Homo sapiens: one gene and its partner. The protein of the gene in region 1 interacts with the protein of each later gene in a pairwise test. Each region holds a gene or a part of one and is shown in the gene's direction. Other genes may lie near its edges.

Region 1 (3,007 bases):
GAAAAGTCCTTTTTTAATACTACTAATAGCTGCAGAGCCTGGACAAATAGAAGCTAGAAGAGCTATTCGGCAAACTTGGGGCAATGAAAGTCTAGCACCTGGTATTCAAATCACAAGAATATTTTTGTTGGGCTTAAGTATTAAGCTAAATGGCTACCTTCAACGTGCAATACTGGAAGAAAGCAGACAATATCATGATATAATTCAACAGGAATACTTAGATACGTACTATAATTTGACCATTAAAACACTAATGGGCATGAACTGGGTTGCAACATACTGTCCACATATTCCATATGTTATGAAAACTGACAGTGACATGTTTGTCAACACTGAATATTTAATCAATAAGTTACTGAAGCCAGATCTGCCTCCCAGACATAACTATTTCACTGGTTACCTAATGCGAGGATATGCACCCAATCGAAACAAAGATAGCAAGTGGTACATGCCACCAGACCTCTACCCAAGTGAGCGTTATCCTGTCTTCTGTTCTGGAACTGGTTATGTTTTTTCTGGAGATCTGGCAGAAAAGATTTTTAAAGTTTCTTTAGGTATCCGCCGTTTGCACTTGGAAGATGTATATGTAGGGATCTGTCTTGCCAAGTTGAGAATTGATCCTGTACCCCCTCCCAATGAGTTTGTGTTCAATCACTGGCGAGTCTCTTATTCGAGCTGTAAATACAGCCACCTAATTACCTCTCATCAGTTCCAGCCTAGTGAACTGATAAAATACTGGAACCATTTACAACAAAATAAGCACAATGCCTGTGCCAACGCAGCAAAAGAAAAGGCAGGCAGGTATCGCCACCGTAAACTACATTAGAAAAGACAATTTTTTTTCAAATGTGCAATTTGTAAATATTGCTAAAAGCATGTATAGTTAGAACTGATTACATCCGTAGGACAAGTTTTAGTTAAAACTCATCACATAAAGAAATTCAAGAAGTATTTTTTTAATTTCTGAAGAAGTTAATTCTTAAAACTATAACATTATATAACAAAAAAGGTTTCCCAAAACAATCTATTTAAAAAACTGTATAAGGAGATTCTGTGTATTAACATGCAATAACAAGCATGCATAAATCAATGGTTCAAGTCTTCTGTTAGGGGCCAATAAAATGTATCTGCATATGTTTTCCACATAAATTTTAATTCAAGAAATGACAGTCAAAAGATCCTTCATTTTAGATTAAGCTTTTCATTTTAATATATAATTTAATGTAAATAAAACATCACTATCAATTTTAAGGAAACTTTTTAATTGTGCAAAGGATAAATTTTTTGACCTATTTTAGGGTTCTAAATGCAATAAGATTTAGTTGAGTTATTCCACAAACACATTATAAAGTTCAGATGTTTCATCAATGCAGTTCTCACGAAAGTATTTACTTTTTAAAAATAACTGAGATATTATTTTAAATTTCTTTTATTAATACTTTCTTTTATTAATATATGGGGGAAAATTATTTTGACATGACGTGGTAAAATGTGAAAAACTAATGTGTCTCAGGCTCAAGTTTTTATAGTTATTAAATGTTTCAAAATAGACAAGTTTTGTTTCCTCATTGATGTTAAGAACCAAACTCCTATTTCAATGAGTTATTGGATTAGACCAATTACTGCACTCTTAAACAGCACCACCATTTAATTTCATGTATATCTAACTTCGAATATATCTGTAAAGATAATCGAAGCAAAAGTAATCACTTAAAGGCACAAATAGGATGTACTGTTGAAAAAGATAAAGAGTGCAGGTGCAGTTTCATTCAACACATTTTTAAGATGCATGTCTGCCAAAATGCAACATACGGGAAGTTTATTTCCTGACAGCAGGTGTACACATGCCAACACTTAATCATTTTATGGCACCTATTTCTTTCTTGGAGTGCCAAGTTTGCAAACCTGCAGTTTTTAATTTGGTAGATGACAAATATTCTGAATCACCAATTAAAAACCTTTTTGGGAGGGATGGGGAAAACTACAAACGTTTGACAAACACAATTCTAGGATGAACAATGTATACAATGCACTTTTATGAAGTTTTTAAAAATAAAGGAAAACAAAAAACTTTACTGAGTGTTATAAGTATTTTCACAATAATTTTGTTTGACTCCATCATGAATTTTAAAATCAAGAAATACCAACCTACTAACTAAAATAGTGTTTTTATTCCATACAAGTATGTAAATCTGTCAATCTTAATTTAGTCAGAATGTTTCTTAATTCTAATAACAATCATTTTTACCTCTTATTCTATTATTAAGGGATAAATCACCAGAAGAGAATTGTAACATTTGTGAAACTTGAAAACACTAAAACTGTTTAAGTGCTTATCTCCATTTCAAATCAGTAGCCTAAGTGTTCTACTCTAAATCAAGTGATTCTGAGAGCTGATCTATGTAACACACCCCAGCTCTTGGATCAAGCCTGTCTTTCACTTAATTTATTCTATATGACTACAGAAATACCAGAATTACTTAATAAAAGTCACACATAAGGGGATAATACCAAATCAGATCAGCATGTTTGACAGAAGACAAAAGGAATCCTTCCCTCAGTGTAGAATAATGCTGATTTATGCTTCAAAAGTTTTAAAAACAGTGTGTGTGTGTGCATACACAGGTGTGTACATAGAAAGAGAACTCAAGTTCTATTTGTCCAAATTATGACTATTTTGCAGGATCTTTAAAAGATAGTAATTTCCATCTGGAAAAAGTTTTTTAAAAAATGACTCATGAAAAACAGATAACAGACACCTAAATTCTTCCTATCTCAAGTTTCAATTTAAAATCTATAAAATTTATAAAATCTATGTAAATTTCTATATTCCTAACATTATCTTGAAAAACGATAGTAATCTGATATCAGACACTGTGAGCTCTCAAAGGCGACTGGATCAAACAGTAAAGTGTCTTTGTACTGTTGAAAATCCTTACTTTAAAATAAATATTCTATTAATTTACTTTTGACTTTTCCGCAACAATACTCAAGTCGTTTTCTTAAG
Region 2 (4,468 bases), on another chromosome or scaffold:
CTAGAATCTGGGAAGTTTCAGCTTCCTGATTCTGTGGTCCTTGTGTGATGCAATTTGGAAAAAGAGAATGTGGGACATGATATTGGTGAGACCTGTTTGCCCCATTTTGGGGTCGTCATCTCAGCCCTTCTCTGGGGGCAGGGCTGGGGATGGAGGTTTTTTGCTCCAGCTCAGAGGCGTCTCTGCAGAAGCAGGGGAGGGGTGAGTCCCCTCAACCCCAGCCCCGAAGACAGGCACTCTGCTTCCTCCTGCCCACCCCAAGACCTCCCACTACGTATGAGCTTTGGAAGGCAGGGCCTCGCCTCTCTGCATGTCACGGGGCCTTTGTGGGGGAAGTCAGTGGAGTAGAGGACCTGCCATGGTGCTGCTGATAGCAGCTCTCCGACAGCTGAAGGGTGCAGGGCTGAGAGGTGGGAGCAGAGGTCCTTTCCAGCACATGGCCTGAGAGAGTTCTGGATCAAAATCCTGCCACATATCCAGGAAGAACCTGCCCGGAGGGGTGGACAAGAGCAACCCGGTGCCACCCCCCAAAGTCTCTCTTCCCATCCACTGCCCTGTGCCCACTTATCCTAGTCATCCAGGAGAAGCCCACAGTCAAGCTGCTGCTCAATGCTTCTGTTAAGGGCCTAACATGAATCATCTCACTTTTTTTTTTTTTTAAGACAGAGTCTTGCTGTTGCCCAGTCTGGAGTGCAATGGTTTGATCTCGGCTCACTGCAACCTCCGCCTCTCAGGTTCAAGTGATTCTCCCGCCTCAGCCTCCTGAGTAGCTGGGATTACAGGCATGTGCCACCACACCTGGTTGATTTTTGTATTTTTAGTAGGTACGGGGTTTCACCATGTTGGTCAGGCTGGTCTCGAACTCCTGACCTCAGGTGATCCGCCTACCTCGGCCTCCCAAAGTGCTGGGATTACAGGCGTGAGCCACCGCGCCCGGCCAAATCATCTCACTTTATACACTTGCCTGAAGGAGCCACGTTATCCCTATTTTGCAGATGAGCAAAGGTCTACGGAGCTCCTGAAATCCAGGCAGTCTGACGTCCAAATCGGAGTCTAGGTCCCTAAACTGCCTCTTCCCCACAAACAGCCTGGAGCCCCTTAGGGTTGGAAGATATGAGTGAATGGATGGATGAAAACAATGAATGAATGGGGGGGCCTGTGGATGCTGGGGAAAGGGGCATCAAAGCTGGACTGGGTCCAAGCCTTGCTCAGGTGTGGCCTCAGCCGGGGAATCCAGATCACAATTTCAGGGACCAGGCTGAAAGGAGGGAAAGGCTCGGGAAGGGACTGAGGAACCCAAGACAGGTCCCTGGTTGGCCCCAGGACCGGCGCTGAGGCCCGGGCCCCGCCTCCGTCCGCGCCTGGAGCCACAGGCCGTCCTTGGTAGGCGCTTAACTCAGGTTGGGTGACATTTTCGCTCGCCAGTTCCTGGCATCAGTGAGTGCTCCGTCAATGTTTGACAAACGGTTGACTCCACTGCCCCGCGCTGTGGGCGCACTAGACTTCGGGGGCGGCGTCCAGGTCCCGCCTAATCTTCTAGGCTCAGGACCCGCGGCGCAAGGGAACGCCCGGGGCGGGGTCGCCTGGGGGCGGGGCCTGGGGTGGGGCCTGCGGACCGAGGGGGCGGAGCCGGCCGCCCCGGGGTCCTCAGTCCGCTCCGGGAGAGTTAGGGCTCCGAGCCGAGCGCGCGGAGCAGCTGGGGCCGGGGCGCGGATGCTGGAAGTTCACATCCCGTCGGTGGGGCCCGAGGCCGAGGGGCCCAGGCAGAGCCCGGAGAAAAGCCACATGGTGAGCGCGGCCCCTGGATGGGGAGGGGCGCCGGGACCCGCAGGATTTCCCCGCGCTGCGCTCAGTGGGGACCCGGGGCCCGGGCCTGGGTGAACGAGCGCTGCGGGCTGGACCGTCGGGGGAAACCTTGTCGAGGGTTTGGGGGCCGCTTGGATTTGCCAGCCTCGCGGACCATGGTTCGAGCTCTTGAGGGACCCCAGGGCTCCGAGGGGCAGGTCCGCCAGCCGGTTCTCCCAGGTGTGCGGGAGCGGAGAGTCCCCGGGCAGCCGCGGCGCCGCAAGGCCGCTTTGTGCCTTTGAGAGCGGGAGGGTGGGCACGTCGCCAGGCGCAGGTGCTGCGGCGTCCTCCCGCGGGGCCTCACGCGCAGACCCGCTGCCCGCCCGCGCCGCCAGGTGTTCCGAGTGGAGGTGCTGTGCAGCGGGCGCAGACACACGGTGCCAAGGCGCTACAGCGAGTTCCACGCGCTGCACAAGCGGGTGAGGCGGCGCCGACCTCCCACCGGCCCCGGCCCAGCCTCTGTCCAGCCCCCGCCCAGGCCCTGTGAGGCGGGCGGGCGAGCCCCAGCCTCCGCCACCCCCATTACTGCCTCAGTCCCTGCGCAGCCGGTCAGCCCCCGGGCCTCTGTGGGTGGGTTGGGGCCTTCCTCGCCCTCGGCCGGTCCACCACTCACCAGGGTCTGTCCCAGTAGAGCCCGAAGGCGGGGGCGCGGGAGGGCTTCTGGCTGGGGCGAAGAGGGCTTGAGGGCTCAGTCGGGATGCTGTGATCGCACGCGGTAAACCTCCAGTAGATCAAGAAGCTGTACAAAGTGCCCGACTTCCCCTCGAAACGCCTGCCCAACTGGAGGACCAGAGGGTTGGAACAGCGCCGGCAGGGCTTGGAGGCTTACATCCAGGTATGCGAGAGCACAGTTGGTTGCCCCCCGGCCTTCTGTGCCAGGGGTGTGGCCCAGACAGAGAGGTGTGGGGGCATGGCAGGGAGGGAACCCACAACTTGGGGATGTTATTCACCACCTCAAGCATCAATTTTCTGAGTCTAATATAGGTCCAAACACCCCCCTCTGGCTTGTTGAAAGGACTGAAAGAGGTAACGGACACAGGTAGTCCCAGCTCCATGAAACCCAGGTCCTGTCCCCTCCATGGTGAGGTCCTGTGCTGCCCTCCTGATGGCATGTAGGGTGAGGGTCCTTCCCCCAACAGCAAAGCTATGCCGCGTCATGGGGTACAACCTGTGCACACAGCGCCCAGCGCCCAGAAGGGCCCTGAGCCTGGTTCAACGCTCTGCTGTCATTGTCGTGAAATTCTTTTTTTGGAACAAAGAGCCCTGCATTTTCACTGGCACTGCGCTATGCAAATTAGTAGCTGGGTCTGATTGCAGGTCTCCTCTGTCCTCTCCAGGGCATCCTGTACCTGAACCAGGAGGTGCCCAAGGAGTTACTGGAATTCCTGAGACTTCGGCACTTCCCCACAGACCCCAAGGCTAGCAACTGGGGGTAAGGGGGGCCGATGGCGGGGGCCAGGGGCTGTCAGCAGTGAGCAGGTGAGGAAAGGTGTTGGAGGGCAAGCCCTTTCTTTTCACATCTGCCAGGATCCAGCATGACCGCCCTCACCAGCTCTCTTGACCTGGGTGGAGGGGCTTTTTTTTGGACAGACTTGGTTACCCCCGCCACCTCCGGAACTGGGGCTTGTTACAAATAGAAGCAGTGGTCCCCTGGGAGGTGCAGTTCTGGGCTCTGGTGTCTCCACCCCTTCCTCACGCTCCCCCGGCATCCCCAGGCAGCTTACAGTGTTTCTCTTCTCTTCAGCACCCTGAGGGAGTTCCTGCCTGGCGACAGCAGGCAAGTCAAAGCCCTAGCCCGCGCTTGGCCCCTGCTGCCCCCTAGTGGCCATATGCTAGGAGGCAGGCCTGCTGCCTGGGCCTGTCTGGCCTGGGCCCTGAAGTCTGTTTTCCCTTTGGTGCCTCCTGAGCCCATTTCCCACTCACCTTTTCCTTCATGGGTCCCTGGTGATGGCAACCCCGTCTCCACCCCTCTGTGGGATTCTGCCCTGCCTCCCGCACCCATGGTTCATGACCCTGTTTCCTCCCAGCTCCCAGCAGCACCAGCGGCCTGTCCTGAGCTTCCATGTGGATCCCTATGTTTGCAACCCCTCCCCAGGTGAGGAGGTGCCTAGATATGGGGCTACAGGGCTGGGTTGTGGGCTTTGCATTTCTCGGCTCCTGGGACCCTCAGACAGCATCTCCTTCCTGCTGCCCACCTCTGGAGCCACTACCTCCTGCTCCTGTCCCCTGGAGCCTGCTTTGTAGACACAAGGAAAACAAGTTTGGCTTCCCTGGTCTCCATTTCTTCAGCAGCCTGACTTCTTTACCAAGCTGATGTGAAAAGAATGTGACCTGGGAATGCGGAGGCTTCATTTGGGGTGGACAGCTGCTGTCTGCTGCCTTGGCAGGGGCTCCTACTCCCAAGTGGGGGCTGAGCCCATGAGCAGGAGCTCAAGGAGCTGCAGGTCTGAGGCCAGACCTGTTTAATTCTATCCCACAGAGTCGCTGCCCAACGTGGTGGTGAATGGTGTGCTCCAGGGCCTCTACAGCTTCAGCATCAGCCCAGATAAAGCCCAGCCAAAGGCGGCCTGTCACCCTGCTCCTCTGCCACCGATGCCCTGATCAGTCCAGAGGCCTTTGGCTG

What was found.
Region 2: the proteins of B3GALT2 (region 1) and SNX22 interact in a two-hybrid assay, tested with the Homo sapiens proteins (one large-scale study listed by BioGRID and IntAct).

Annotation. Positions count from the first base shown.
Region 1 is NC_000001.11:193,178,113-193,181,119, reverse strand, and holds the end of B3GALT2 (beta-1,3-galactosyltransferase 2), read left to right. Parts: coding exon 1-826; 3' UTR 827-2,390; downstream 2,391-3,007. UniProt on the Homo sapiens protein: Beta-1,3-galactosyltransferase that transfers galactose from UDP-galactose to substrates with a terminal beta-N-acetylglucosamine (beta-GlcNAc) residue. Can also utilize substrates with a terminal galactose residue, albeit with lower efficiency.
Region 2 is NC_000015.10:64,150,063-64,154,530, forward strand, and holds the start of SNX22 (sorting nexin-22), read left to right. Parts: upstream 1-1,668; 5' UTR 1,669-1,713; coding exon 1,714-1,788; intron 1,789-2,180; coding exon 2,181-2,264; intron 2,265-2,575; coding exon 2,576-2,680; intron 2,681-3,182; coding exon 3,183-3,277; exon of another isoform or gene 3,278-3,324; intron 3,325-3,589; coding exon 3,590-3,622; intron 3,623-3,872; coding exon 3,873-3,940; coding exon of another isoform or gene 3,941-4,089; exon of another isoform or gene 4,090-4,318; intron 4,319-4,324; coding exon 4,325-4,446; 3' UTR 4,447-4,468. UniProt on the Homo sapiens protein: May be involved in several stages of intracellular trafficking. Interacts with membranes containing phosphatidylinositol 3-phosphate (PtdIns(3P)).